Homo sapiens: one gene and its partners. The protein of the gene in region 5 purifies or fractionates together with the protein of the main gene of each other region. This does not show direct contact. Each region holds a gene or a part of one and is shown on either strand. Other genes may lie near its edges.

Region 1 (5,000 bases), on a different chromosome or scaffold from region 5:
TTCTACGTTTCTTCTGAACTTAATTTAAAAAACTGTATTTTAAAATTCAACCATGTATTAAGATCTAATAAAATAATAATGAAAAGCAATTCTGACTGATAGTCCCTGTTGAGCCATCAGTGAGAACACATTATAAAAAAGGTAGCTTATAAATATCATACCAATGATATGTGCAAAACAGGCATTTTAGAGAGAGATTTACCACTTTCCAAACAGTATCTTTTGTGATTCTGGGGACAAGGTGGTGTGGGTAGGGTAGAGATGATAAATACATCTTACATAGAAGCATGAATGTAACTTCATAAAATACAAGCTGAAAAATTAATTGGTTAAATGACTTACTGTGTAATTTTATTTCATATTACACAAATGTTAATCAAATGCTGAGTAGACATGCAGATGACAAGCAGTATATGACAAACTCTGAAGAAATAGTTACATGTAGAGTTTCTCAGATTTTTAGTGTATCTAAGAATTAACTGAAGAGTTTGTTAAGAATGCAGGCTTAAAGGCCAATCCACAGATTATAATTTCATACAAACAGGATGGAGCCTAAGAACCTGTAAATTATTAAACAACTGATTAAAAATAGAGAGGTTTCTATGAAGTTAGGCTTGTCCTTATTTCTTATTTGAACTGGACAAGTAGAAGGATAATAGGTAGGACCAAGTGAGCATTATCAGAATCAAAGTAGAGGCAATAACAAGCCAAGGTGTTTTAGCCTAGCTAAAGAAGCTCAGACTAGAAAAGACCTCCAGGATCAAGCTGAAGAATCTGGGGTTTAGACTCTTGAAACTAAGGTTTCAGAACAGGAGGATAATAATATGATACTGACTTTTAAGTTGATGAGATGCATTCTAAGCTGGAAAGCCAGCGAAAGGGTTCAGAATGAGGTGATAAAGGTGAGCATTAGGGAGGAGGTATTTGCAAGAAAAAATAAAATGTCAAAAGACACTTTGGTAAAAAATGTTCCTTTCACATATTTAAGGATTGGCAGTTAAAATTAAATACAACATTATAAAATACCCATGTCAAATATAATAACAGCAACATCAATAACAACAAGACGAATGAAATAATCTTCAACAGGTTTCTCAGATGTTTACTTCCATGATTCTTGACACTCCATAGGAGCTCGGTAACAGTTTGTATTGCCTAGAAGAATTATTGAAAAGAAGGATTAGTAATCTAGATTAAAACGAATTTATCCATCATTATAAACTAAAAACAGGCCTTGTATCTTCTTTAAGGCAGATGAAGCAATATATTCTGTAAGATAATTTTTAGATTTATCATTTCAACCAACTTTAATTTATCGTGAAAGACAAACATTCACAGTCAAGAAATAAGAAATTTACTTCTCTAAAACTACAAATCAGAAAATGATTAAGGACCTAAGAGACATTTAGGTTAAAATGCTAAGGGTATTATAGAGGGAGTAATTTGGGGTGTGTGGACAGGGACAAAATAGTCATGCAAAGCTTCAAGGAAGATTTGAGATTTGCCTTGAAGAACAGGCAGAATCCAGGTATACAGAAAAGAAAGCGTAGAAGGAGGAAGAAAACAGTCATTGTACACAACAATCTCAGTAAGAACTGCTTTTATCAGAAGGTGTCAACAAATTTTCACAGTTCATAAAATGGATGACTTGCTAAATGCTATAAAAGCAAATCCAAAGGAAGAGGACACTTTTATACATTTATTCATGTCTTACCTTCTTTTAATGGGGTCTTCAGGGCAAAATTTTCTTTACTTTCATGATGAAAAGCCTTTGAAGGATCAAAGTGTTTGATACCTAGAACTTTATTCAATTCCTCTTGAAGTTTTGTCTCACTTTGTTTTTTTTTAGCAAGCTGACAGCGGAGTTTTGATACTTCCTAGGTAAAAAGAAATAATAGGTAATAAACAATTATTAAAGAGTATGTCAGTGAAATGTGTTACCAATGTTGCGGGCAAATTCCAAAGTTGTTTATGTATTATCACACTCAACAGCAAAAATCACTACTAGACACAGGCTTTAAGACTGAATTACAAAATGACATGAAACAGCTGTGACAAAGGAGATACAGTCTTTTAAATCTCCTTGCCCCTCCTCAGCTACAAAGCTATTTTTCTGATAAAAGTTCAACTCAAAAGTAATTGCTGAGATGGACTTCTGGCATGACAGCATGAAAGTTCTGCTGACCTGCTCCCTAGTGAAACTAAAAGTTATAAAATATTAACCAGTTAAAGCCTCTGAAAATTGACCTAAGGGAAAAATAGCAAATGAAGAAACATCTATTCAAGAAAATCTGCAAAAATTTGGTGAAAAAGAGAGTCTGCAGTGTTTAAGCCAAAACTCCTTCCCCTCTTCCCACTCCCAGCTTAGCAAGGCAAAGTCCACGCCAGACGGCTACAGCCAAAAGCACAGGGCCCTCTTTTCCCCCAACTCCGAGTCAGAAGCTTCCCTCCCAGGAGGACCAGGACATCAGAGTTTCTCATTTTGTCCCCAGCTCCCTGTGGCTGCAGTTATATCCTGGACAAATGCAATTGTGAGGTGGGGGATCCCTTCCTCCAGTCAGCCCCATTCATGGAACAGGGGCTCACCTTGGGCACAGTGTGTTGAAAATGCTGGGCCCCGATGACTCTTTCTCTGGCTCATGAGGGGGATGGTTCTACACCAGGAGGTTACTCAAGAGGGCCTGAGGCTATTCCTCATCTCTTCCCCACAAGTCCACTGAAAACTCAGCTCCTAGGGCAGAGGATGTCACTCAGAGAGAAAACTGCCATTGTCCCCAATTTCAGCTCTAGTCCTGGCTCAGGGATATTGTCGGGGGAGGGGGAAAGGAGGGCGGAAAAGACAAGTAGGCCATAAAACAGGGAGCTCCTCATTTCTTTTCAAAGGAACTGACTTCACCTGCAACAGAGCTTGGAGAAGCTGAAGCCTAAGGGTGCTCTAAAGCAGGGGTCCCCAACCTCCGGGCTACAGACCAATACCCATCCAAGGCCTGTTAGGAACCCGGCTGCAGAGCAGGAGGTAAGTGGTGAGCCAGGAAGCATAAGCATTACCCCCTGAGCTCCCCCTCCTGGCAGATCAGCTGCGGCATTAGATTCTCACAGCAGTGTGAACCCTATTGTGAAATGCACATGTGAGGGATCTAGGCTGCATGCTCCTTATGAGAATCTAATGCCTCATGATCTGAGGTGGAACACTTTAATCCTGAAACCATCCACATAAACCCATCACAAGCTGGGTGATCCGGTCTGTGGAAAAACTGCCTTCCACAAAACTGGTCCCTGGTGCCAAAAAGGTTGGGGAACCATTAAAGAACAGTGGTGGTTATAGTGAGAGAGAAATGGGAGGAGATTTAAGATACAGGCTGAACAGTAGGCTAGTTAGTTTGCAGGAGAAAACTAGGGAATATGACAGCTGGGACGAGCCCTTCTGTAGTCAGAATAAATATCCAGCACTGCTCTCGTATGCAATCCCTACAAAGGAGCCAGAATTTGATTGGATTAGTTTATAGAGCAATTTATGCCCTAAGGCACTGTTGCAAATAATCAAGCAAGGAGCCAGCATCTACTGGAGTTTACAGTCACTATGTTCACGGAAAGAGAGGAAGGCAGCCCTACCAAAGCAAGTGTCATCCCAGGGTAATTGTGGGCACACCTAAAACTGTACCTCCCTGAACAGCAACATCAGAGGCACAATACTGTTGGGGTCTGGGGAGGTAGTGGGATATGTTTCCCTAAAATAATTGAGCCACTCATTAAGCAAACAAGCAAATAAAAAGCCCCCAAAAGGAGGGGGAGCTGTACCCAGAAATGCTACAATATATGATCTAAAAATTTACTTTCCAATGAAAAATTACAAGGCATGCCAATAAACAGAAAAGTATAACCTATACATTTGGACACAAGGAGAAAAAATGTCTGAGAGTAATCGGATGTTGGATTTTTCAGCCATTAAACAAGGGCTGAAAAACCACCTATTGAGTACTATCCTTACTGCCTGGCTGACGGGACCTGTCATACCCTAAACCTCAGTATCATGCAATGCACCCATGTAACAAATCTGCATATGTACCCCCACATCTAAAATAAAAGATGAAATTATAAAAAAGAAAAGTTCTTGGCCAGGTGCAGTGGCTCAAGCCTATAATCCCAGCATTTTGAGGCCAAAGCTGGTAGATTCCTTGAGCCCAGGAGCTCCAGACCAGCCTGGGCAACATGGCAAAACTCTGTCTCTACAAAAAGTAGAAAAATTAGCCGGATGTGGTGGCGCACGCCTGTAGTCCCAGCTACTTGGGAGGCTGAGGTGGGAGGATCACCTGAGCCCAGGGAGGTTGAGGCTGCAGTGAGCCGTGATTGCATCACTGCACTCTAGCCTGGTGACAGAGTGAGATCCTGTCTCTAAAAAAACCCAAAAACCAAACAAAAAAATAAAGTTCTTTCTCCACTAAAAATTTAAAAAAAGAAAGAAACTTAAAAAAAAAAGACTCAAATTACTAGAATCAGAAATAAAGAGAAGCCATTACTACTGACCTTACAGAAATAAAAAAAAGATTATAAAGGAATACTATGAACAATTATATACCAACAAATTAGGCACATTTATAGAAAGACATAAACTACTCAAGAAGAAAACCGAATCAAGAAGAAAGAGATAATCTGAATAAGCCTATATCAAGTAAAGATATTGAATTAGTAACCAAAAAATATTCACAAGAAAAACCAAGGTCCAGATGGCTTCACCAATAAATTCTACCACACATTCAATGAAGAATTAATACCAATTATTCAAAAACCATTCCACATAGAAAAGAGGGAACATTTCTCACTCATTTTGTGATGTCACCATTACCCTGATACCAAAATGAGACAGACATTAAAAAAACAAAAACAAAGCAAAGAAAACCTACAGACCAGTATATCTTAGGAATATGGCTGAAAAAAACCCCTCAGCAACATATAAAAATAATTATATGCCATAACCAAGTGAGATTTATCTCAGAAGGTTA
Region 2 (3,705 bases), on a different chromosome or scaffold from region 5:
TTATAGGCATGAGCCACCATACCCAGCCAGTTTCATTTATTTTCATAATAGGTTATGAGTACGTGATGTAAATGCTTAAAAGTCATCATCACCATACTGTGCTAAAGATATTGAGAAATTATGCAGAGAAATCTGTGCAAATTCATCTTCTTAGTATCAGATGGTTAAAAAAAAGGAAACAAAAAACAAAAGCAATCCAAATTATTTCTTTAAATACTCTTATTTATACTCAGGAAAACAGATTTGAAAAACTGAACAAGTAGACATCTGCCCCGTTTATGATTAAATAACAATGCCAATGAAGGAGATTCCACAGAAAAAACTGAGATGAAAAAATCCAAATAAAAGCCAACACTGCTATTAAGATTTTTCTTTTAATATGCCATGAGATATCTTGATTGTATATTTTCCAAAGTACTTTCCAGCCACATCTCCCAACCCATCCAAAAGACTTTGCCAGTCTTTCCAATGCAATAAAAGATGCTGGATTATAGTTTTGTCTACCATTTCTTTTTGAAAGCAATATTATACTAATGACTTTAATGGTAATACACTCTTATCTAATAAAGAAACACATTTACAAATATCAGAAACCCAGTTTTGAAACATTTGCATTAATTTTGAACTGAATCAGCATTTTGTGGGTTTTTTAAAAGGCAGCAGTTTGACTCACGACTTGCTGATAAACACGTTTCTGCTGAGGGAAGGGGAAAAGACAGGGAGAGTGAATGCTGCATTTCTCCATTGGCCCCAAAAGTGCTAATTTCACAAAGGGATACATCAAAAGCAAACATGCAATGGTTGTTTTAAAACTTTTACTGCAATATAACAATGAAGTAAACAGTAATTAGACACCTACCAATTTTTTCCCCAAAACAAAAAAAAAATGTAAACAGGAAAATAACTCTGCCTATACTTGTACAGCTTCTCAAATCATGTTAGAAGGGTCTCACATTCAATGATCAAGAAATTTTAAAATAGCAGTAATTATTTTCATTTTAAGAAAAGGTTCCCTTTCTCCCCTCCCACCCCAAGTATTTAACATGAAAGAATGGGCTTCCTTACATATTAATTTTATACTTATTTTTGAAGCAGCAACAATTAACCATCAATTTGGCATTTCTGTTTACAGTCGCTACAAAAATTTTTTAAATTTCACAAAGCCATTATCCAGTGTTGCCATGAAACAGAGACTGTAAATTCTAGGTAGCTAAGATTCTTTCTGAAACCAATGTTAAGTCAAAGAAATATAAAGCAGGGCATTACACTAAGTTTCTGGATCTAGTACACTAAAAAGAGTGAAACCTAGGAAAAGTTACCTACTGTTTTACAGAAGAAATAAAGACCTGCAAAAGCTGATTTTTGGTTGTATATATTTTACACACTGTGTGGAGTTGCGGCATCTGCTAATTGAAGCAGACATGCACTGTATTTATCCCTGCCCTGTATCCTAGATCCCTCCCTCCCCACCCCCAACAATCTACTACCTTATACCAAGTATTGTGGATATGAGCCCAAGTCATCCCAGACAATCCAGTGAACAAGTTAGTGTAATGCACTGGTGTGAAGTGTGAGATATAAAAAAGTCCCTTTCAATCTTCATCAAAGTTCTGCTGTAGAAGAAAATTGGCAGCCAAATTCTCATTCTTCTCACAAGCAAAATACGCTTGTATCACAAGTCCTTCAGGAAATCCTAATGCCTTTAACTGGAAGAAAAAGGAAAAAAATATAAATCCAACACACCAATTATGGCACATTTAATTTTATTTACATATTATAGATTCCAGCATAGCACTAAAGATAAATCATTACTCAAAAACATACTGCAACCCAAAAAAGCTCTTGAGAATTTTACATGAATTCATCTCTATCAATATGGATTTACTGCCCAACCCAAGGGATTAGATGGAATCTAGACCCTTTCCTTTACTAATCACCTAAAAAAGTCTTTGTTTCTAGTTAAAGCTTAATAGATACTATGCAAATACTCTTTGGCCTAATTAAAAATTAGCTGCTAACTGCTATGGTTTAAAAATAAATGACTCTACAGAAATATGTAAATCAAATGGCTTTTAGTATATTAAGAGTGAAGATAAGGATGAGAGTACCTGCAGTATAGTTTAACCACCTCACCTATTTCTAAATTAAAAGCAAATTATGTTTTATTTATTAATGTCAACTCATGTCTTTCATTTGGATCAAACATCACTCTCAATCTCCTTGCTTTATTCAACACTCCATACTAGAAAAACAGGTGACCAATTATTAGTAATACATGGTACATTTTGAAGATAATGTTCTATTTTTATCTGCTTAACAGTTACAGCATTTTAAATGGTAATACCAGCTACTTAATTTCATTTTCCTAGTCTATTATATTAAAAATCACTTGTGACAATACTCACTCCTTTTAAAAGCCTTTAAAAACTCAGCCAAATGTCACCCTCCTCAATTGTCTCAATCACCTTGAGTTAGATCACAGGTCCCAAACCCCAAGACCGTGAACTGGCACCAGCCATTGGCCTGTTAGGAACTGGGCTGCCCAGGAGCAGGTGAGCAGTGGGTGAGCAAGGAACTGGGCCGCACGGGAGGAGGTGAGCAGTGGGCGAACAAGTGAAGCTTCATCTGTATTTACAGCCACTCCCCATCACTCGAATTACCACCTGAGCTCCGTCTCCTGTTGTATCAGTGGCGGCATTAGATTCTCATATGAGCATGAACCCTACTGTGAACTGTGCATGAGAGGGATCTAGGGTCTGTGCTCCGTATGATAGCCTAACAAATGCCTGATGATGTGAGATGAAACAGTTTCATCCCAAAACCACCGCCCCACCCCACTTCCTAACCTAACTAACGCCTGATGATCGGAGGTGGAACAGTTTCATCCCAAAATCACTGCGCCCACCCCACCTATGTTGGTAGAAAAAAAGGTCTTCTACGTAACTGGTCCCTGGTGCCAAAAAGGTTAAAGACTGCTGTGTCAGATTATATTTGGAAATAACCCTTAAAATTTGGGCAAAAATCCCAATTCATCACGAATAACTATTCATCTATGAAAGCAGAAGAAACTAAAAAATCAGTTTGTTATCTGGGTTTTATCCAGATTAAAGCTAGGATAGGTGAAGTAAAGGGTACAATCCAACTGCCTGCTTCTACAAAACACACAATTTAGATTCAAAGACACAAGTAGGTTGAAAGTAAAATGATAGAAAAAGGTATATACTATGCAAATGGTAACCAAAAAAGAGCTAGAATGGCTATATCAGAGGAAACAGATTTAAGATAAAAATTGTTACTATAGACAAAAGGCATTTTATGATAAAAAGGGTTCAGGAAGACACAACAATTATATATAACAGAGCCACAAAATACATAAAATAAAAACTGAGAATTAAAGGTAGAAATTGGCAATTAACAATAATAGAGACAACTACAGCTCCACCTTCAATAATAGATAAAACAGCTAAGGAAGAAGACTTGACTACAAACTAGATCTATCAGATATTTATAGACCACTTAATAAGAACTACACTATATTCTTCTTCAGTATACATAGAACATTCTTCAGAAATACCATGTTAGGCCACAAAACGAACCTCAATAAGTTGAAAAGTATTGAAAGTATATTCTCTGATTATAATGGAATGAATTTAGAAATCGAAAGGAGAAAATGTGGGAAATTCATAAACTTGTGGAAATTAACAC
Region 3 (4,516 bases), on a different chromosome or scaffold from region 5:
TGTCAACAGCGGTGTTCTGAACTTAACTTTGTCCTAACTATACAGATATACAAAATTTATGTAATGAAGGATTATTTCGTCGGCAAAATACGTTAAGAGGGAAACAAAACAGAGATTTCCTTCCTCTTAAGCCATTTCATCGGGAAGTTTGGCTGATACATTGGTGGGTCTGTGGTCTAGTCAGTAAAGCAGGACACTGGAGTTCATCTCGCCACCTTTTAAATGCCCAGCCACTGATAGCAAAATCATCATATTCACAATGCAATGAGGAGAGGTGACCTAATTTGTGCCTGTGAAAGCCAATGCCACAAATTAGAGTTGGCCTATGCTGACGTCTATGTTGAACCCAATGCTCTGTCTACTTAAATGATAGCTGCCAGCTTCACTGGGGGCTAATAACAGTGTTTACGGAACCAGGCAAAGCAGAAAATTGAGTTTGTGTTTACTTTTCCCCCCAATATGCTTTAGTATGCCAAAATGCCTTAATAACAGCTGGGTGGTTGAAGCAAAGCAGGCCTCCCAAATAACAAGGGCATTTTCAGAATCAATGTGGGCCGAGCCTGTGAGGTCCAAGGAGAGGCCTTCATCTCAGATATGTAACTGATCTGTACTTGACCTGTGAATTTATCCCCATGTTCTTTAAGCAGCTCACACCCTTCCCCACATTCCATTCAATATCACCAGACTAGATTGTACCGTATGTGAACGATTTAGGAAAAAAACCTGAAACCAAGAAAGTTGAAACAAATAACTCACAACAGGGGAAAAAAGGAAGAAAAGAATTAAAACTGGGGCAAGAAGTACTCACTCAATGTCTGCCATTTTGGTCAATAAATGTATTCGAACTGAAGATGGAAAGTCAACTGAGGGAAAAACAAAATCAAATGAGTTAGGTCACTCTCTACTGTCAAAAAACCCACAGAGGACAAATGAGTTTCAACATGAAATCCTTAACACTGAACTAGTCCTGAGGCCTCAGCCTGCTCACTAGATACCAGACCTCTAAGAAAGTAGAAACAGTGCTGGTTTCATACTTTTTACCCACTCGATTTTGTGCTTTATAGGGTAGACAAAAAGGAAAATGAGCAGATACCAAAGTGATCCTAAGAGCACCAAAGATCACACTGCTCTTAGCAGCTGGGTAGCTCTACAAGTTAACTTGAATGCTGAGTTCCCACTTGCTGTTTTTATTTTATATTTTACTTTATTTTGAGACGGGGTCTCACTGTCTTGCCCAGGCTGGAGTGCCATGGCATGGCGTGATCATGACTCACTGCAGCCTTGACCTCTTGGGCTTGAGGGATCTTCCACCTCAAGACCCTTGAGTAACTGGGGCTACAGGTGTGCGCCACCTTGCCTGGCTGTTTTGTACTTTTTGTAGAGATGCGGTTTCACCGTGTTGCCCAGGCTGGTCTCAAACTCCTGGGCTCAAGTGATCCACCCATTTTGACTTCCCAAAGTGTTGGGATTACAGGCGTCAGCCACTATACCGATCCTGTCCCCATTTAAAAACCAAGCACAAACAACTGATTTTTTAAAGTTGGTTTATGCTCAGCTTCCACAATCAAGGTGCAGAGCTGGGCCTGAGCCAACCATACCTTGGGCAGAAGGCATGGCATGGGCCAGCCAGGAAGAGGCCTGTGAAGGCCTGGGCAGAACCAACATTCATTGACCCGGTTAAGTCTCCATCTTGCAGTTGGCCACTGTGGAAGGAAGAGCTTCTCCGAAAGCCTACACAAGTCACCTGGGGAGCTTAGAGAATACGGATGCCTGGTTGTCCTCCGAGAAGCTGACTTAATTTGTCTGGAGTGCCCCTATCTGCTGCCAAGGTTGAGAACCAATTCTCTGTGTAGAAGGTACAGGCAAGTGTGGAACTTAAGATGTTTTCCTTAAGCCTGCTTTGGTTTACATGGTTTACATATCTTCTCTTTCTTTTCTGGGAATATATATCTAGATAGACAGATAGATAGACAGACTTTTTTTTTTTTTTTAGAAATGTGAATTAATATATACTACTTACTGCTATAAAATATAAACCCCTAGAGGAAATAAAGTTAGCCTCCAGGAGTTTTCACTTTCCCCAGCAGTTCTAGATATTAAAAGAGGGTTTATGGAACACGTTTTTTGTGTTTTGTTTTGTTTTTTTTTTTGAGACAAACTCTAGCTCTGTCGCCCAGGCTGGAGTGCAGTGGCAAATCTTGGCTCACTGCAACCTCCACCTCCCAGGTTCAAATGATTCTCCCACCTCAGCCTCCCACGTAGCTGGGATTACAGGCGTGCGCCACCATGCCAGGCTAATTTTTTGTATTTTTAGTAGAGACGGGGTTTCACCATGTTGCCCAGGCTGGTCTTCAACTCCTGACCTCAGGTGATCTGCCTGCTTTGGCCTCCCAAAGTGCTAGGATTACAGGCTTGAGCCACCGTACCCAGCTCTGGAACAAAATTTTAAACAGTGGCAAGACAGAACTGCTAACAAGAAGGGTCTGATTTACAATTCATTAGTTTCTTTGCTTCAAGAATGAAGCCTCCTGTCCTAACCATCCTTAACCCCAAAGCAGGCTACCTTCTCCACAGCTTCTCAGCTGGGGGATAATGTAAGTTACCTCTATGCACAAACAAGTGTATCTCTGTCAGGATATCATGCAGTGCCAACCCCTTCAGAGTTTTCAACTCTGTAATATCTAGAGGAGCAGTTAAGGCAAAGGGAACAAGTTCCAGAACAAACATACTGCAGAGAATTTTGAATCCAAACCCGGGCAAGAGACTTTTTAAAGTAAGGCTTTTAATCCCAACACAACTGTTTCTCTTTCAACTTGAAGCTGCACGTGTTGGACTCCAATTCTTTATTTTTCTTTGTTTCATCTTCAGTAAGGGCTTTCTGAAAGATAGAGTTGTAACTCCTTCTAGTAGAGAATAAAGCCAACTGCGTTTTCTTTTTCTTTCTTTCTTTTTTTTTTTTTTTAAGATGGAATCTCCCTCTGTCACCCAGGCTAGAGTACAGTGGCATGACCTCGGCTCACTGCAACCTCTGCCTCCCGGGTTCAAGCAATTCTCATGCCTCAGCCTCCCGAGTAGCTGGAACTACAGGCACCCACCACCACGCCCGGCTAATTTTTGTATTTTTAGTAGAGACGGGGTTTCGCCATGTTGGCCAGGCTGGTCTTGAACTCCTGACCTCAAGTGATCTACCGCCTCAGCCTCCAAAAGTGCTGGGATTATAGGCATGAGCCACCACACCCAGCCCCAAATGCATTTCCAAAAAGGCTTTGTGTCACCATTCCTAGCCTTTCATTTCACAGCACAAGAGCTATCACTATCATGACCACTTGAAAATTCCTGCATCTTCAATGCCAAGGCCTAAGCTTTTCTCCCATCTGTGAGTGAAGCTGCTTCAAGCCTTACCCTGACTTGAAGGTCAGAGCCCTCCAAGAAGAACTCTGGAGTGCTAAAGACAAGTACCCACTCCACCTACAGACATCTCACTCCCACAACAAGCTGACCAGAGTCGCCTGCAGCCAGTCATCCTTTGCCAGCAAGGTGTGGGTGCTGGCTGCAACCTGAACTCCTGGGGCCACCTTCAGGTCTCGGTGGCCAGGAGGTCATGAGAAAGGATACTTCTGTAGGCTGTGGTGAAATCTTGATTCAACATCCAGTCCAGGATGTTGGCAATGTCTGACTTGAGCGGGTGCCCGGTGCAGGTGTAGACAGTCTCCTCTGTCACCTTCCCAAAGGCCATATTGGTGCTCTGTGTAGACAGAGGGGGAAAGGGGAGATCACAGTGGCTGTCACAGCTGCCACCAAGCTGCAGGGAGCCAAGAAGAAATTGCCAAGGCAGCAATGCAGGTGAGCAGCAAAGTTCTATGGGCACAAGGCAGTGGGAACCCACATATTCAATACCGGAAGAGTCACCTCATCAGAGGATGCCACAGCCTGTTGGCTATTCCAGTGCCAAATCCTTCCCTCCCTTTGCCTTCTTTGCAACAAATGATTCCTTTTGTTTTTAAAACATTTTCTTTTGCTCTCTCTTTGTTTTTTGAGACAGGGTCTTGCTCTGTTGCTCAGGCTGAAGTGCAGTGGCATGATCATGGCTCACTGTAGCCTCGACCTCCTAGGCTCAAGTCACCCTCCTGCCTCAGCCTCCTGAGTAGATGGGACTACAGGTGTGCACCGCCACACCTGGCTCATGATTTTTTAGTGGAGACAGAGTCTCACTATGTTGCCCAGGCTGGTCTCCAGCTCGTGGGCTCAGGCAATCCACCTCCCTCGGCATCCCTAAGTGCTGGGATTACAGGCGTGAGCCACCATACCTGGCCTGCAACAAGTGATTTTTTCAATTAATCAAAATACAAAGTGAGGAGGGGGAATCCTGCAGGTTATGAGACCAAGGTCTTACCAGCTGTAGATTTCAAAATTTACAGATTGATCATGCCTTTGCTTAGGTCTTTCTTCAAAAACTATTACAAAACAATGACTCAGGATTTGCTGGGACCAGGCTGGGCATGGTGGCTCATGCCTG
Region 4 (5,000 bases), on a different chromosome or scaffold from region 5:
TGTATAGGCTACAAAAAATGCCAGGTAAGATTTACACTGAATGAAAAGCAAGAAACTTATAAATTCTGCCTATTTAGTGTTACTATTTTCAAGGGTGTCTATTCATATTGATTAGAGTTGGTAGCACATTCAAATTCTATTCACATTTAATATATTTTAGAGCACCAATTTTACAGGCTATAGCAGGGATCTAGCCTAAGTGAAGTAAAAGTACTCTACTAAGGAAGACTCTTGGTTTAAGAGAAAATACTCCTAATTCCTTTTGTAAGATTAAAATTTACATATTTGTTAACCATTATGTCCCCACAGAGGGCATTACTTCCTATTTTACCTTTGCCCCCCACATGTATACCTAGAGGACTAGTATTTTTACTATGTACAAATATATTTCACACTAAAATGACCCACTTGTAATACAAAACTAGACATAATGCAGGCCTGTTTCAGGCACTGTTAGTAATATCAGAATTACTAAAAGGACTCTATTATATCATAATTTTACTAGTTTCTAGCCTATCCCTTAATTCCCACCTCCCAAAAGATCTCAAAAATCACATTACAGTAAGTAAAGTACATGTATTAGCTTAAGTCCATCATGACTAAATTAGTAGGTCAAATCTAAATGTGACTCTTCTGTTCACACCCAAAGGGTTTGTCTATCTAAGTTCATCAGAAGGCTCTTAACTTACATTAAAGGGAGGGGAAAATCTTAAAAAAATAAAATACATAAGCATAAGTCACTTTTATCAATGATTACTGGAACCATCAGACTTCAGAAAAGTCAACATAGGCACAATCATTTAACATGCACATTGCATATGGCTACTGATCACCAAAAATATACCACACACATCATGCATTTTATTTGCATAGTAATGTTAACCTATTCATCTCAACATGTTAGTGAAAAAAAAGGTCAAGTACTGTGTTTGAATGTGCTCTATTTTTCTACTGCATTAAATGTGATCAGACAGGAAAGTAATTTCTAGAAACCAATTTCAAAACATATTTGAGTTAAAGAGTTACACACAGACAGAGATTGTGCTAAGGCAGAAAGTTTCAGAGAAACAAAGAGCTTCATGCCTAGGAGAGTGAACTTTCGAGGTTGTTACTATTTTGCTTGTTTGGTTCCTTTGGTTCTAGCTCTTAATGTCTAATGTAAAATACTCCAAAAAAAAAAAAGCATTATCTCACTCTTCTGTATAAGTAACATATCTCTAAGTTACTTATGGAACTTAGTTAGGATATGTTGGAAGTTCCCCTACATTTTTCCTACGTATATTGTTTTCGATAAATTAACTTTGTTACCTTCAATTTCTTCATTACAAAAATTTCAATACTGTAAGTAGAGGGAAAACCACCGAATATTTGCTTTATTATCTATCCAAAACACTGCATAGAACAATTTGGTCTCTATACTGATTAATAATTTAAAAGTATTACAGTATTTGGGTGTAATTCCAGACTTATATGACATATAACAAGCTTTACAAGAGAAAAGAAAAATCTGGAGTTAATCTGAATATTTATGATATGTAAATCTGTGATGACACAAAGGATCTGAAATTTATATAGTTTTGTTTTATCATAATACTTATAAAATATACAAAAAAGTAGCAAAATTATACATGACATATATGTATATATACATAGATGTGTGTGTGTATATATTTAAATACCAAAAAAAGGCAGCTAATACAGCATGGAATGACAATCAACCAATGTATGAACTGGGTTTTTCTTTTCACATACAGTGAAAAATAATCATCTGCTTAGGTGATACTGTACGTTCATAGTGTCAACACACAAAAACTGCATTGACTGAATTTAGAGCCTCCTTACTGAGAATATTTTACTAATACAAATGTTTAGTCTGAAAAGAAATATAAACAACTCTAATGAACAAGTCTGCTCACTGTTCTTTCTCCAATGGGAGAAGCTTGATCATTTTCTATCTTCACACAGCCTTGTAAGTCAGTTGTACAAGACAGCTAAAAGAAATGCTGACTAAATACCATGTTAGTTCAATTATTAGTTAAATGTAAAATTTGTAGATGGTATGAATGTTCCCAGAGTTCTAATGAACTTCCACAAAATCGACATTGGAATATAAATTTGAAAACCACACAAAAAAATGAAATGAATAGTCAGAAGGAAACATGAAAATGTAATGGGTAAAATACATGTTGCCAACATTTACTATAATGAAGTCATTGGAATATCACCAGACTATATTATTTACAGAGAATACACAAAAATTGTGCACATTCCAGGTGAAATATGTATACAAGCTATTAATAAAAGCATATACTAACCAGCCACAATGACACTGTCATTACGTGCTGGACCAAATTTCAGTGTCATCTCATGTTTATGTTTATGGACAGCCAAATGATCCTCGTTGGTAAAACGCTGTGGCAAAAAGTTTTAAAATATAGTTAAGATTTTCAATTTGATCAAATAAGTAAAATGATTAGGAAATTAATTTCCACAACATGTAAAACCACCATTAACAGTGAAATAGCAGTTTTTAAACTATAAAAGAATCCGTTATTGTTAGTAGATAGCACACTAGATTGCAAACAATCACAGAGAAACCTATTACTCAAGAATAAGCAATACTGATATATTGCTAGGTCACATAACTCATTTGAGAGCATTTAAAAATAAAATTGGAGGCAAAGAAACTTTATATAAATTTCTTATGGATACTAAAAATAGACCACCATTAATTTGTCTTATCATAGTAGAAACTATACTCCATGGTTCAATGACTTTTCAAGAAAGTACTGTAGTATTAATATTTACCTAGACTTAAGGTTACTTACCACTTTTTAAAAGAGAATTTTCTTATAAAAGTATTACGCCTGGACAAAATTTAGAAATAAATCTGATTTTTATGTTACCACATAAAAAAGAATGCCTTTGTTTTAATCCAGCAAAGAAATAGCAACCGATACAATAACAAAACAGCTCATTTTAAAATAAAAAAATTTAAAGTAGCCAAAATAATTTTTTCATGAGAGTTCTTACATAAAAATGGAGCAAAGTTGTTTTTAGAACATTTTATTTTTAAAGTTATCCATCATATTTTTTCCTACCTCTAACTTGGATAAGTTTTGCATGCCAAAGGTAACATTTATGATTACAACATAATAAATGCATTATCTCCAATGTCTGAACATCAACATTTTTGAAGATGCTCATTAAGCAACATTTATAACTGAAAACAGGGAGCTGTTATTTCAGAGCAATAATTTTAAAATGCTAAGTTAACAGATCTCAATTCACTCTTTATAACCTTACAAGTGAGGATGTTAAAATATATATACTTGAACTTGGTTTGCCCAAACCATCAAAATGAATTCCATTTCTTGTGGTCTCCTTCCCCTACCCAATTCACTACATCCTTTCATGCAACTAATAATAGTAGCTTTAGGGTTACCTTAAACACAATGTAAAAGAATGAAACATTTTTAACATTTTAACATCTTTGGCCCAGTCCACTATCCGTCTGCCTGTAGAGGTGAAAATCATCTCATGTGTGCGGCACAATGCCTTGGTTATAGCACCTATCATATTTTCATATGTCTGTCCTTTTAAGTAGGCTGAGCTCCTACCGTGGTCCCCCAAACTTAGCATATAGTTAAGTACTCAATAAATGCTAACTGAAAGAATGAATTCATTACAATAAAATAGATGAATCTTAAAGATCAATCTGAGGGGGCTAAAAAAGACCCTAAACCATTGTTCATTAAGATGAATTCAACTTCAATTTAATCTTGCTACATTTTATCACTTAGTCTTTGGATTACTTCACATGCCAACAGAAAACTATTATTTTATAACCTCTCTTCAGAACCTGCCTGTATTACCACTGAAGGAGAGTGTTCAGATGCAACAACACTTCCACTACTTGACATATTCATTCACTCTTCAGACATTTACTGGGCAGCAACTATAGGCAGTAGGACCACAATCAAACTTTTCCCCACCCAGGTACTGTCTTCCTATTACTTTATCATTATAAGAATCTCCCCCAATTTTGGAGAAATAAGAAACAGTGGTACTTTTGACAGATTGCTGAATAACAAAGTTCTCAGAAAACGAACATATCTGCAGAGCATACTGACATTAATATTTTATGCTTTTTCTTTGTATTGCTGTTTTAAATATATGTGTCTTACATCCTACACTAAAAGCATCTGAAAGTAATATTTAGTTTATGTTTCAAAGAACCTCATAATGTGGCTTTTCCACTGAAGGCAATCATTAAACATTTGTGAATGAATGCATTTTGGTGCAGGTCCCAGATTTTAAAACTGCAAACTCAACAAATTAATAGATAAGAAGTTGGAATGTTGTCGCCTAGGAATTTTATTCTATCAATTTTCTTTGCTTGGATTAGTTTGACCCCAAATATTCAAATCAAAGAACTGCATGTAGAATAAATAACATTGTGTTCGTACAAAACATACGAAATGGCACCAAGTTCAATCCTAAGTGTAAAGAAGTGGCCAGAAGCAACCTAACAAATATTTAGGATCATATGAATATTAAAAGGGAGAATGCAAGGAATATGTATTTATAAACTCTCATATAAGATCCACAGATCAAATTTCCCTAAATGCAATTTACAAAGGGATTACTGATCCTGTAACAGTATTAATTATATACAGGGACAGCAACACTGCAAAGGACAAAATACACTCAAAATACAAAAACACTGCAAAAGACAAAATACACTGGCACTTGATACAGGTGAATTTGACCTTGGTTATCTGAGAAAATTTATTATTTTTAACAAGAAACTTAAGACCGTGTGAAAAGGCAATCTTGTGAAAAGGCAGTCACCAGAAGTTTAATATGAAAGAAATGCATTCTTTATTTATTTATAAAATAGCTGCAAGCTAAATTTTTTTACAGAATCTATATGAAATGTCTTCCCAGTCAAATTATATTCCAAGAATAAGTTTTGTAAAAATATCTATATTACTAGC
Region 5 (3,500 bases):
CAAAATTTAAAATAACTGCTAGACACCAAATTTTGGCAATGGACTTAAGTAAATAGTCACAAAAATTAAATGAGGTAAATAAGTCAATTTCAGGCTGGACATGGTGGCTCACGCTTGTAATCCCAGCACCTTGGGAGGCCGAGGCGGGCAGATCACGAGGTCAGGAGTTCAAGACCAGCCTGGCCAACACAGTGAAACCCCGTCTCTACTAAAAATACAAAAATTAGCTGGGCATGGTGGCAGGCACCTGTAATCCCAGCTACTTGGGAAGCTGCAGCAGGAGAATAGCTTGAACCTGGGAGGCGGAGGTTGCAGTGAGCTGAGATTGCGCCACTGCACACCAGCCTGGGCAATAGAGCCAGACTCCATCTCAAAAAAAAAAAAAAAAAAGTCAATTTCAGTAAAAATTAATGGAATAAACCAGTAAATATGTAAAAATTAACAGAATTGTTTCTTTAAATAAAAAATACAAAAGTAACTAATCAAAGCTTGCAAATTCCACAATGTTTTGTATTAAACAATAGCACAAATTTTAACTAACCTTTCAAAACAATATTAGCAAGAATGCTTGAAAAATTAACAACACAAATTATTATTGTTTGTCATACAAAACAAAATTGTCAAGGCAAATCATTTCCAGAATTTACCTTGTAGGGTGTTTGGATCAATGAGGTGAATGGCACTGGTTACTCGAATACACACACAAATCTGGTTCATATTTCCCAGGCTTTGTGCCAGTTTTGGAGACAGACAGACAACATTATCCTAGGCATAAGAACTAACATTTAGAATGAGGCATATCCTAAATAACAGTCCAATAAACACTCATCAATAAACACCCAATCCAATTGCATTTGACCAACCAAAACGTTATTTTCAATTCTATCAATCAACAAAGAGACTAAAGAAAAGAATCAGACCTTAAGTATGACAGGCATCTTGTCTTAATAAAAATGCTTTAAAAAAAAAAAAATCCTGGCTGAGCACGCTGGCTCACTCCTGTAATTCCAGCAATCTGGGAGGACAAGGTGGGAGAATCCCTTGAGCCCAGGAGTTCAAGTCTAACCTGGACAACATATGGAGACCCTGTCTCCATATACATATATATATATATTTTAATTAGCCAAACGTGGTGGTGCATGCCTGTGGGCCTAGCTACTTGGGAGGCTGAGGTGGAATGACAGCCTGGGCCCAGGAGGTCGAGGCTTCAGTGAGTTAAGGTGGTGCCACTGCACTCTAGCCTAGGTGACAGAGCAAAACTGTCTCTCAAAAAAAAAAAAAAAATCCAGGGCCCAAATCACCAAGCTATTATTATTTCCATTTTATTGCAGTGTGAATGCCTCTTATCACTCTATATGTTAATACAGTGTACATTCTAAACAGAGTATTATAAACATTAGCAGGAGAGTGATTCTATAAATCCACCTGTGACTTCTTTCAATCTCCATTAAAAAATAAACTTCAAAGGAACACATTTCTCTTACATGGCTACATGTGCCAATATACAATCAAAGATTTAAGCCCAAAAAAGTCACATGTCTACATTTATATTGGGAGACATGAAGCAGCAACGTAATTATCTGTTTTTAAACTGAATTAAAATACAAAAAAGATCTGAGTTATATTTTAAGGTGTATCTATTCACAATCATAACAGCTCTTAGTTCAGTCCTTGGTTTTTAATACATGAGTTTCCAAAGATAAACAAATATACTTTTTTACATAGTTTAATACATATGTTAATTTTTACATGTGTAAAACTCAGTTACACAAGGCCTAAATATGCCCTCACACCTAAATTCATATTTCTCAAGATTTGTACCAGGGAAACATTTACTGTTTTAAACCAGAGGTTGGCAAAATGCCACCCTCAGGACAAATCTGACCCACCATCTGTTTTTGTAAATAAAGTTTTACCAGAACACGGCCCTGACATTCCTTTACATATTACCCATGCTACTTTTGTACAACAGCAAAGCTGAGTAGCTGCAAAAGAGATTATACGACCTGAAAGTTAAAAAATTTACCATCTGTCTCTTTACAGAGAAAGTTTGCTGACCCTATTTTAAGCTATCATTTCATCCCTAGTACATACTATAAAATAGCAATAGCAGTTTTAAAGCTTTGGAGACACAGACCTGGGTGCAAATCCTAGCTTCATCATTTTGTGATCATGTAACTTTGGGCAAGTTATCTAACCTCCTCAAACTTCAATTTCCTCATCGTCAAAATGATATGGCTTACCTCAGTTATTATGAGATGAGAATGAGGTGAAAGACACTAAAGTATCTAGATTAACTTTATGTAGAATGGTCACAATAATGGCAGTTATCATTCTTAGTGATTTAATACTGACATATAAATTCTTACATGGCAGAGACCTGTAGTTATACAATCCTCAGTACACAGCCTTCTATACTATAGATACTCAATAACTATTTATTGAATTTTAATTCATATTTTTCTGAAGCAGAGTTTTATCTTAGTACAATTAAATGAAATAATCTACATTTTAAATGTTTTATTCAGCTTATGTTTTAAAATCATAAAAATGATTCTATGATCTCATTTTCACATTATCACAATATTCTTTCATTTCTTGCCAAAATTTTGTTTGTACATATTCCACAAAGTGGCTCACTAATATTGATTTTAATGTCATTTCTTTTATTCAATTTCACTGAACTATATGATACAGGCTCATAGGATCACAAATTTCAAAGAATACGGACTTTTATCAACTATAACCAGGTCTTTTCATTTTAATACACCAAAATAAAAGGCATGTCAATTCATAATTATAAGCATGACTTTTTTAAAAATATATATCTTTTAACATGGCTGAATGTGTTAGAAGTCACTTAAGGAACTTATTCTAAATTTTTAACCAACCCTAGAGGAAAACCAGGAGCTACAAATTACATATAAGCCAATTAATTACTTGTACTCTTTTACAGATATGGATTAAATGAAAAAGAAAAGTACCTTGCATATTGGAACAATTTCCACAGAAAAAGTGCTTTTGTAATTGTATGTGTTACTATGGATATCTTGAGAGATCAGTCTTTGTGATGCTTTGTATCTATTAAGAAAAAAGTTAGTAGTAATATAAAGACAAAGATCATTAACCTGTATGGACTCAGGAATATCAATTTTCATTAAATCAAACCATCATTGTCCAAGGTCTAAAATGGCTTCATGATGCCTCCTCTGGTAAAACCTACTGTCCTGCACTTGCATGTCAAAACCTTCACCATTCTAACTAAGCCCTACCTATTTTGAACCTTTTCCACCAAACCTCTAGAACATGCTGTTGGCTCAGACCAATCTACTTTCTATATAGCATTATTAAAAGCCATACTAACGCCCACTGCAAATCTTTGTTCACACTAATAGTACCTTTCAATATAAACTCCAGCTATGAAAATTTCCCGATCTTTGGAGCACAAGTCCTACCACCTCTGTGAGTGGGTGGTTAACCCAATATATGCTTCCTGATTG
Region 6 (5,000 bases), on a different chromosome or scaffold from region 5:
GGTCCTGAAAGCCAAGTGAAGACGCCATTAGGGAGGAGATGCCCTCCATTGGCTCAAATATTGCTGACAGATTAAATGAGGTGTAAGAAAAATGCCTAGATTTAGTACAGAAAAAAATTAGTGATAATCTTGAGGAAAAATAGTTCTGGAGGAGTGCTGAAATTGAAGACTTACCGGCATTGAGATCAAGAGTGAATGGAAAGAAAATTTGAGTTCATGAGTGTAGACAGTTCTTTAAGGACAATATACTTAACGCTCATGACTGAGAATGATGTAATTTTCATCCACAGTCATGGAAAAGTGATAGACAAGAAATAGTAGCTTCCAAATTTTACATACCAGGTGGAGTTTTCAAATTTTATGTAACCATTATATATTCTAAAGGTTATAAAAATTATACACATATGGCATTTAGAAATGTCAGACCAAGGTTTTAAAGGCCCTTTGAACATTTCTAGATTACATAAGCTGATTATCATTTTGTTCACGCTTATACATAAAGACCAAGAAATACTAAAACTCTCAAGGAGAATATTTCTTGCTTGATAAAAATCAGCCAATTCTAGGACAGTTGACACTCATCAAATATACGAAGTAATTGATCACAGTAAAATACTGAGTTCTATTAACAGGAATAAAGTGGGAGAAATGCAGAAAATAATCTTATTTTATAAATGTAGTTTTCAAAATCATATGAAGTCACTGGAAAAATATGGTGAGGTAAATACTGAAATATATCCTTTTCTCAAAGGGAGGATAATGTCACACATGCAGGGCACTTTTACAAATAAAAGTCACTGCATTAGCAGCACCTTCCTTTTAGCACAAGGGTCAGCAAATAAGCACCTGTGGGCCAAATCCAGCCCACTGCCCGTTTTTGTAAGTCAAGTATCTTGGAACACAGCCATGCTTATTCACTTTACAGTCCATAGTGTCAGTTAGCTGGGTGTGATGTTGCACACCCGTGGTCTCAGCTAGTAGAGACTGAGGTCAGAGGATCACTAGAGCCCAGAAAGTCGAGGCTGCAGTCAGCCATGATCACACAACTGCACTCCAGCCTGGGAAACAGAGTGAGACCCTGTCTCAAGAAAATCAATATATGTAGTCCACAAAGCCTAAAATATTTACTAACTAGCTCTTTGCAGAAAAAGCTGGCCAACTCCTGGTTTAGTAGATCAAAGATTCTTTGATGTATTTTAATAAAAGTTTTACCAAATATACTGAAATGTTTATATTAAATATAGATCCCCATGTACAATCGCTTGGCAATATTCAGATTGAGGGTCCAATATTTCAGCACTCAGGCACTGACAACAAAAATTTAGTAACTAGCAATCTTGTTGCTAACAAGGTACAGTGTCAATGTAGCATGTAGCTTCCATTTGCAACACAGCAGATATTACAAGAAATTTAACAAGAACTCTTAAGATGTGTCATCAAACTAAACGCTTTAAATACATTTTAATTGTGAAATAATCAGTATACCCTACATCTAACCTCATTTTTTAAAAATGGTTGCATAATACATTATTTTGGGGATATGGAAATTGAGCTATTTCCTATTGATAAGGAATTAGACTAGCTCCAAATTTTTTACATAATACTATAATAAATGTCCTTATACATAAGTATACATATAACATATCTATACAAATATCCTTTACATGTATTATATATGCTTACTGTTATATATGTGTGTGTGAATATGCTACTCAATTAATGTTCAAAATGTATTTACCAACAGTATATGAAATGTCTTTTTCAATGAAACCATTTCCCCTGCAGCAACACGGATGGAGCTGGAGGCCATTATCCTAAGAAAACTCATGCAGGAACAGAAAATCAAATGCCACATATTCTTACTCATTAGTGGGAACTAAACATGAGAACTCATGGACACAAAGAGGAGAATAACATACACTGGGGCCTACTTGAGGGAGGAGCATGGCAGGAGGGAGACGACCAAAAAACTACCTTTCGAGTATTTTGTTTACTATGTGGCTGGTGAAATAATCTGTACCCCAAGCCTCCATGATACAGTTTACCTATATAATAAACCTGCACACGTACCCCGAAGCTAAAATAAAAGTTCACTGAAAAGAGAAGAAAATGTCTTTTCCCTCACATTTGCCAATACTGGTTATTTTTCAAATAAATTAATGACTGGAAAAAAAACGGTAACTGATTGTTTGCTGATTTTCATTTTTCTGATTAACAGGCAAGGCTCAATATCCTAATAAAAGTATAAAATTTGTTCATCATGAATATTAGCTCAAATTAGGATTAGTTTGGCAGCACAAAGTTACCTCCTGTTCAATGTTGCCATAGGCTTACCTGTGATACTCTTCATTCTCAGTGTCAGGAAATTGCTGGCTTTCAGGTGTTCTGCTCTTCCTTGGAGGAATTAATCCATCATCACCATTGCCAGCAGTGGCACCATTAGTCAGGTTTTCTGGGAATCCGACATGAGTACTTCTGTGCTTCTTCATTTCTTCGATAGCCATAAAATTTTCTAGCTGGAAAATACAGAGAATAAGAAATTATCTACTTTAGGCACATTATCTATTGATAATCAGACTAAAACCAAGAAAGATAAAATAATTGGTCTAAAGCTCCTAAAGTGGCATTACCTAGCATTTTATGGCACCATTCGGGATTATTCCATAATAATGAAAGAATAGCTCTAGGGTTTGCACCTCTTCAAAATTCAATGTACAGAATTCTGAGTTAACTATTTAATTTTTCACTGATGATTTATGCTACTTACATGATAGGATCATGTATGCCTACATTTACTACACTTTGTTAAACAACATAATGTAAAAATCTAATTCAACACAAACGTTTGAATATAAAGGTATACCTCTCTATCACCATCCTTATTTATTTCTGGTTCTTGAGATCTTTTCTGCAGATGTAAAAACAGAAGGTTAATTTGCTTGTTGTATTTCTGTGACATTTCCTCTTTTGGAGTGCATGTTTTTAAAATAATTTTATTCTGAAGTAATCAAGTATGGACAATAAAAATTAGAAAGTAATTAAAATTAAACTGTTAAAATAAATAATAATTAAAATTAAGAATTAACTTTTTAATCTATGTTTAGCTACTGCCACATCACTGGCTTCTAACATGTGAAAAATAATTCACCTTAGACAAAGGGAGAAGAAAAACATGAACCAGCAAACTTAACTTTCTCACTATTTGTTTGGACTAAATTTAATTTGTTATGTGTTAAATCTACCAAAAATGAATCAGCAGATGATTTGTAGTGTTCCAAAATCTTCCTCACTTGAAAAGAGTTTACCTCATGAAACCCTAACTAGTGAGCACCTACAGTGCACTGAAGTGCTTTTTTAAAAGATTCCTAACTGGATTGTAGGCACCCTTTAAACTATTAGGAGCCGAAATCAACACCAAACAGAAAGAAATGCAAATTCTCACATTTTAATTGAAATTATATACTGTCATATGATAGTGTTATGTATCCAGATTATCTGCGTAAGTCCAGTTCTAATATATTCTAATGTGTACTAATGACAGCAGATAAAATTTTTTAATCTCTACTGATTTTCTGCAACTGAAATAAATTAGAATGTTATTGTGTTTGTGCACTAACACCAAAGGTCCCATTCTGCAAGATATGGTTCTTGTAATAGGCAGTTGGGTTGCTTTTATGACCTGGTTCCCTCCCTGAACAGAAACACTGAGGTCAACGAGAGACCACAAGGCAGGATATGTCCTTAACCTTGGTATCAGTGACTGACAATATAAAACTGTGGATTTTCAATCACAGGCCATGATTACTCTTTAACCATGAATCCAGCTCAGGGAATCAGTGTTACATTGTTCATAATTCCTATTGCTTAATAATATGATTCAATCATTGATGTTACTTTCTTTATCATGTTAGGGTGTTGTAAAAATAAAAGAACAAACAAAGTTCTGAAATTTGTTTTTGCCTCTATTCCAAAAGGAGAGATTAGCTATAAGCTAATCAAGAAGGCAGATAAGAATATTTTAAAATAAGAGTATTTTAAATTTTATAGTGGGTTATGTTGAAGTTAAATATCAAATATTAAATTAGAATCTATTGATTCTTCTGTTAATAAGGTTGCTGATTTTATTACAATAAATTTTAAGAATCTATTAAAATTTTTTTTTTTTTTTTTTTCACATGGAGTCTCGCTCTGTCACCCAGGCTGGAGTGTAGTGGTGGATGTCGGCTCACTGCAAGCTCCCTCTCCTGGGTTCATGCCATTCTCCTGCCTCAGCCTCCCGAGTAGCTGGGACTACAGGCACCCACCACCACGCCCAGCTAAGTTTTTGTATTTTTACTAGAGACGGGGTTTCACCATGTTAGCCAGGATGGTCTCGATCTCCAGACCTCGTGATCCACCTGCCTCAGCCTCTCAAAGTGCTGGGATTACAGGCGTGAGCCACCTTGCCTGGCCAAAAGATTCTTAAAAAAACAATCTACTGATTCTCAAAGCCTAGTCTGAAAGGTAATTTCATTTGGACTATCTAATATTATTAAGGCAAAAAAAACACAACATTAAACAAAAGTTTAAATTTAAAAGTTTCCATGCCTCTGGCTGGCCATTTTCACTGCCTTTAAGCCTTTGTGACTCTTCCTCTGATGTCAGCTTTAAGTCTTGTTCTGTTGAAAAATCCATACATTCAGTTAAAATCAACCACTTAAAACAGTTAAAAACTATTGCCTTTTAAAAACAGATTTGAGACATTTCATTTTATTTCATAAATTGAGTGTTTCATCTTTTGTGAAATTGTCATTTAAGAAATAATTCTCAAAAACTTCAAAAACCCACTTGGGGAGATAGCAGATGTCACCAGATTGAAGACAAACAAACATGTCAAAAATTCCCTCACAAATTCATCCACCCAACATCCATGAACAAAACCACCAGAAACACAGCTTTAAAATACAGTAGAAACATATAAGGTGACACAGTGTACTGTTCTCCACTTCCTAATAGTACCT
Region 7 (5,000 bases), on a different chromosome or scaffold from region 5:
ATTCAAAGGATTTTTAGTTTTGTTTTTGTCTGTTTGGCATTTAGGAAACTGTTGGGTTTTTAAAGCAGACTGTACCTAAGGTAAAACAAAAAAATAACGTTATAGCTTTGATAGAAATAGGTTGAAATGTACATGTTACTCAACATTTCAAAGATTTTATGTCTTATATACAGGAATATAAGTGAATGACATTACTAATGTCAGTGGTAGAGAATGTAATAACAGTGCATATCAGGATTTAACTTTGTTCATTTTCAGTAATGTTTTCAGCCAGTGTCTTCAGAAATTAGTTTCCTTTACCTCTCTTCTCCTTTTGTTGGATATCTCTGTTCTTTTACGTTGGTTTAAGTGGAGTTATAAAGTACTTGTATTTTATTATAAATTCCAAATAGAGTATAGAAATATAAAGTTCATCTATTTGGACTTCTGTGGAAAAGGGATTGGAGAATCAGACCATTGGATCCATTCTTGGGTAAGAAGCCTTTGGAAATTACTTGTTTTGTGAAAGTAAAGTTTCAGAAAATCTACTTGCTCCTTTTCTTATAGGAAATAGTTCAGCAGTTAATTGAAAATAGTACAACATTCCGAGACAAGACAGAATTTGCCCAAGATAAATATATTAAAAAGAAGAAAAAAAAGTAAGTAGTTTTTATTTTAAAAGGCCCACAATATTAAACTTCTTATATGTTTATAAAATATACATTTTATTACAAATAAAATATTTTAAGTCATTTTTTTAAATCAGCGTTCTGTTTTTTCTTCCCCCAGATATGAAGCCATCATTACTGTTGTGAAGCCATCCACCCGTATTCTTTCAATTATGTATTATGCAAGAGAACCTGGAAAAATTAAGTACGCTTTGTTTCCTTTCAAAAGTATAATTGGGGGAAATATGTCTTTAAGAAAGTCATGATTTTAAGTAAAATGAAAAAGCTTGCTCACCTGCATAAAGTATCCTCCTACCTCATAAATTGTAAGTCCTTTTACTGTCACCTCCAAAGCAATCAATAATCTTATCAACACAATTTTAATAAAGCAAACAAAACTTGAAAAATGATGATTAAAATAATAGGCTTTACTTAGCTAAAAATGAACAAATTATTGTTTTTACTTTAGCCACATGAGATACGATACACTAGCCCAGATGTTGACGTTGGGAAATATCCGTGCTGGCAACAAAATGATTGTGATGGAAACGTGTGCAGGCTTGGTGCTGGGTGCAATGATGGAACGAATGGGAGGTAAGATTTAATATTTCCATTTTCAACAAAACCCCACCCTGATGTGAGTAAAGGTGGTCCAAAAATGTAAACTCATGGAAAGCCAAATTGAATTACTTCAGGGTTAACAAAGTGACTTGGGTGAACCTGCACGGCTCCTAGCATGGGGACCTTCTTACACAGTCTCCATCACCCAGCCCCCCACCCATGGGTACCCCCAAACCCATGGCAATTGTCCTTTCTAGCTTCACTGTCAGTGGGCATGATGCTGGAGCCTGTGGCTGGCTAGGGCTTTCGGGACAGTGATTTTAGTAAACTCCTGGGTAGCTGGTGCTCATTTCATTGGGCCTAAATTGAAGGGATTGAGTGGGAAGATTACTAAGCATGTATTCTCTCTGGAAGAATACAACACAGCCTGATTTGTCTGGTTTTTTTCTGACCCCATAGAAGGTAAGAACTTGTAACTGCTCCATTTGAGGATCGGAGTGAGGGGAAGCAGAGTCCGTCACCAATCATGTGACATCCAAATTTGCAGACACAGGGTTTTACAATAGTATCAAGTGGGGATAAGCTTCTTTGAGTCTTCCTGCTATCTGCTTTAGAATTATATTACCTCCATTGGTAATACTCATAGACTCCAAACAGACTCCCTGAGGAGCTGCACCATCCTTCAGCCTCTGAATAAAGTACTAATAGAAAGACCTTCAGTCTCATTACTGTGGAGGACTCACTGAGGGTTTACGTAGTCTAGAGTCACTCCACGGGCAGATGTTTGTTTCTTTTATCTGTTCAGGTTTTGGCTCCATTATTCAGCTATACCCTGGAGGAGGACCTGTTCGGGCAGCAACAGCATGTTTTGGATTTCCCAAATCTTTTCTCAGTGGTCTTTATGAATTCCCTCTCAACAAAGTGGACAGTCTTCTACATGGAACATTTTCTGCCAAGATGTTATCTTCAGAGCCAAAAGACAGTGCTTTGGTTGAAGAAAGTAATGGCACACTGGAGGAAAAACAGGCTTCTGAACAAGAGAATGAAGACAGCATGGCAGAGGCCCCAGAGAGCAACCACCCAGAAGACCAGGAAACAATGGAAACAATTTCTCAAGATCCAGAACATAAGGGGCCTAAAGAGAGAGGAAGCAAAAAAGATTATGTAAGGATGCCAAGAGTCCCCACCACCCCCATAATCTCAGTCCCTCAGTTAACTTCAGTTAAGTCATGAGATTTAGTTTGGCTTTGGTGTATTAGCTCCCAAGATGATAACTATCAAAACAGAGAACGAGTGTGTGTACATGTATACAAACGTGTGATTCGGTCTTCGGGATGGAGCTTTAGGATACAGAAGCGTTGCATAGATAGCTTAATCATGGTTTTTATAGTATATAGGCTTTCTTGTGTATTTGCAACTTCCTTATAAACAACCTGCTTCTATTGGTTTAGTCCAAGTTGATAAATATTGTTGAAATGTTTTGACAGGCCAGAGCATTTCCATAAATTTGACTGAAAGACCCCAGTACATTGATTTCTTATTTTTCTTTTTGAAGATTCAGGAAAAACAGAGGAGACAAGAAGAGCAGAGGAAAAGACATTTAGAGGCTGCCGCTCTGCTGAGTGAAAGAAACGCAGATGGGTGCGTTGATGGAAGAAGGCAGGAGACTCCTCAGTGCATGTGGGCTCTGCTTCAGACAGATTGGCATTCTCTTTCTCCTTGTCTGCTTTGACTCTAGTGGGACCCGAGATGAGGATTTTGTCTTGGGGGTTTTTTTAAAGAAAGGAGGCTGAGGCTGGCAGGGGTGGGGAATTGATGATGCTGGTTTCAGGGTTTCAGAAGAAATTGAATCTTCTCCATCACTGCATCAAGATGGGCCCTGTGGTCCCACTGGATGCAGGGGATGGGGCACTCAAATGCTGCGATACAGGCTATAACAGATATCCACAAAGCAGCTTATGCAGTGTTGGATTTGTTTCCAGGTGATTTTTTTTAAAAAATCAAGAATGTCATTAAATGCGACTTAGAGTTGCCAAGTACCACAAGAGCTTCTAACCTAGTTCGCGTTTCCTAGAAAGAAATAGCTCATGATTGTATTCTGTTTTGGATTTCTAGAATGTTATATTTAAATCTCTTCTCTTTGTGAGTCATGCAAATTAAATACATGATCATTTTAAATGCATTTTAAAACCTGTGCTCCACTTTGAGGGTGTAGAGAAATAATTTGTCTGGCATTTTCCTTACAGTTTAATTGTAGCTAGTCGTTTCCACCCCACTCCCCTGCTGCTGTCTTTGCTGGACTTTGTGGCCCCTTCAAGGCCGTTTGTGGTCTACTGTCAGTACAAAGAGGTAATACTGGAATGGAATGGGCAGGAATTCTTATGTCTGAATGTTGATTCTTAAACTGCATCCCAGGAAGTAGTTCTTAACAGAATTCTGTTGTTGTCTGCAGCCTCTGTTGGAATGCTACACAAAACTGCGGGAGAGGGGAGGGGTCATCAACCTCAGGCTGTCTGAAACCTGGCTCAGAAATTATCAGGTACGTGTTCTTACAGCCAGTCCCAAGAGCTGCCCTCCCGAGACTTGACTTTCCTTGCAGTAGTACTAGAAGTCATTAAATAGAGTTATCTCAGCCAGGCACAGTGGCTTATGCCTGTAATCCCAGCACTTTGGGAGGCCAAGGCAGGCAGATCGCTTGAGCCCAGGAGTTCAAGACCAGCTTGGGCAACATGGTGAAACCCTGTCTCTACAAAAAAAAATACATAAATTGGCTGGGCATGACCCTGTATCTACAAAAAATATAAAAATCAGTCGAGCATGGTGGCAGGTGCCTGTAGTCCCAGCTACTCAGGAGCTGAGGTGGAAAGATTGCTTGAACCCTGGAGGTCGAGGCTGCAGTGAGCCGAGATCCCACCACTGCACTCCAGCCTGGGTGACAGAGTAAGACCCTCTCTCAAAAACAAAACAAAATAAAAATAGAGATGTCTCTGTTTCTTTCTACAGGGATGGAGATTTCTCATGGCTGTTACTCAGAGAATATGCCCCTGACTTTTTGTGACCCTTTTTTTCTCTTGTTATGTCAGAATATATTACTCTGTAACTCTGCCCTAAAGGCATTTAAAATGCAAACCATTATGGTTCTTATTTCCCCAAGGCCTCAGTATCACTGTGGATGATGTAATTGACAATAGCAAAATTCCCAGGTGGATGAGAAACTGGCCCTTTCCTCTCTGCCAGGATGTTTTTGCAGCAAGTTTTCAGGATTTACTGGTGGGCTCTGTGTCAGTTCAGGTCTTCTGGAAGACATATGCTAAGATGGAAGTTGAAGTGTAAGAGATTTATTGAGGGAAATGCCTTAGAAAGATAAGGGGAGAGGGAGCAAGATTGGTGGTGCAGGTTGATGCCTGGGCAAGGAGCGGGTAGAGAAAGGAGGATGGTAGGAAGAGCCTGCAGTGCTGCTCTGGAGAAAGTCTCCATGAGGCTGATGGCGAGCCCAAGTGGAAAGATCGCCATTCAAGGAGCCCTGTGTTAAGCAGAAATGCTCCAGCTCTGGTACCCATGCTCAGTTACTGACTGGAAGCAACCCATGGCCTCCCTCGGTATGAATGCTGCAGTGGATCCCAAAGGAGCGGCAGCTGGAGGTGTTCTACTGCCTGAATGCCTCTCAGCTGTTCCCTCATGAAGGGAGATCTGAGGGGAGCACCTCCATGCTGCCGTAGGCCCCGTCTCATTGCTTGGTGTCTTACCATACTGTAGTGGGGATGCTATTGAGCCTTGGGTAACCCTGCCCTT

The links.
Region 1: the proteins of NMD3 (region 5) and HMMR purify together in Homo sapiens (affinity purification with mass spectrometry; 2 studies listed by BioGRID and IntAct, with this or other methods). This does not show direct contact.
Region 2: the proteins of NMD3 (region 5) and RAD23B fractionate together in Homo sapiens (co-fractionation; one large-scale study listed by BioGRID). This does not show direct contact.
Region 3: the proteins of NMD3 (region 5) and RFC5 fractionate together in Homo sapiens (co-fractionation; one large-scale study listed by BioGRID). This does not show direct contact.
Region 4: the proteins of NMD3 (region 5) and ATF2 purify together in Homo sapiens (co-immunoprecipitation; one large-scale study listed by IntAct). This does not show direct contact.
Region 6: the proteins of NMD3 (region 5) and POTEF purify together in Homo sapiens (affinity purification with mass spectrometry; 2 studies listed by BioGRID and IntAct, with this or other methods). This does not show direct contact.
Region 7: the proteins of NMD3 (region 5) and TRMT6 fractionate together in Homo sapiens (co-fractionation; one large-scale study listed by BioGRID). This does not show direct contact.

What each region holds. Positions count from the first base shown.
Region 1 is NC_000005.10:163,487,267-163,492,266, reverse strand, and holds the end of HMMR (hyaluronan mediated motility receptor), read right to left. Parts: intron 3,017-5,000; exon of another isoform or gene 2,884-3,016; intron 1,878-2,883; coding exon 1,715-1,877; intron 1,156-1,714; coding exon 1,103-1,155; 3' UTR 326-1,102; downstream 1-325. UniProt on the Homo sapiens protein: Receptor for hyaluronic acid (HA). Involved in cell motility. When hyaluronan binds to HMMR, the phosphorylation of a number of proteins, including PTK2/FAK1 occurs.
Region 2 is NC_000009.12:107,327,544-107,331,248, reverse strand, and holds part of RAD23B (UV excision repair protein RAD23 homolog B), read right to left. Parts: intron 1,707-3,705; coding exon 1,593-1,706; 3' UTR 1-1,592. UniProt on the Homo sapiens protein: Multiubiquitin chain receptor involved in modulation of proteasomal degradation. Binds to polyubiquitin chains.
Region 3 is NC_000012.12:118,026,118-118,030,633, reverse strand, and holds part of RFC5 (replication factor C subunit 5), read right to left. Parts: intron 3,746-4,516; coding exon 3,616-3,745; intron 2,682-3,615; coding exon 2,604-2,681; intron 864-2,603; coding exon 809-863; intron 1-808. UniProt on the Homo sapiens protein: Subunit of the replication factor C (RFC) complex which acts during elongation of primed DNA templates by DNA polymerases delta and epsilon, and is necessary for ATP-dependent loading of proliferating cell nuclear antigen (PCNA) onto primed DNA.
Region 4 is NC_000002.12:175,119,129-175,124,128, forward strand, and holds part of ATF2 (cyclic AMP-dependent transcription factor ATF-2), read right to left. Parts: intron 2,413-5,000; coding exon 2,316-2,412; intron 1-2,315. UniProt on the Homo sapiens protein: Transcriptional activator which regulates the transcription of various genes, including those involved in anti-apoptosis, cell growth, and DNA damage response.
Region 5 is NC_000003.12:161,238,311-161,241,810, reverse strand, and holds part of NMD3 (60S ribosomal export protein NMD3), read right to left. Parts: intron 3,082-3,500; coding exon 2,985-3,081; intron 766-2,984; coding exon 648-765; intron 1-647. UniProt on the Homo sapiens protein: Acts as an adapter for the XPO1/CRM1-mediated export of the 60S ribosomal subunit.
Region 6 is NC_000002.12:130,083,480-130,088,479, forward strand, and holds part of POTEF (POTE ankyrin domain family member F), read right to left. Parts: intron 4,659-5,000; coding exon 4,588-4,658; intron 2,909-4,587; coding exon 2,864-2,908; intron 2,517-2,863; coding exon 2,335-2,516; intron 1-2,334.
Region 7 is NC_000020.11:5,939,800-5,944,799, reverse strand, and holds part of TRMT6 (tRNA (adenine(58)-N(1))-methyltransferase non-catalytic subunit TRM6), read left to right. Parts: intron 1-546; coding exon 547-638; intron 639-768; coding exon 769-852; intron 853-1,116; coding exon 1,117-1,241; intron 1,242-2,013; coding exon 2,014-2,372; intron 2,373-2,763; coding exon 2,764-2,849; intron 2,850-3,454; coding exon 3,455-3,557; intron 3,558-3,660; coding exon 3,661-3,747; intron 3,748-5,000. UniProt on the Homo sapiens protein: Substrate-binding subunit of tRNA (adenine-N(1)-)-methyltransferase, which catalyzes the formation of N(1)-methyladenine at position 58 (m1A58) in initiator methionyl-tRNA.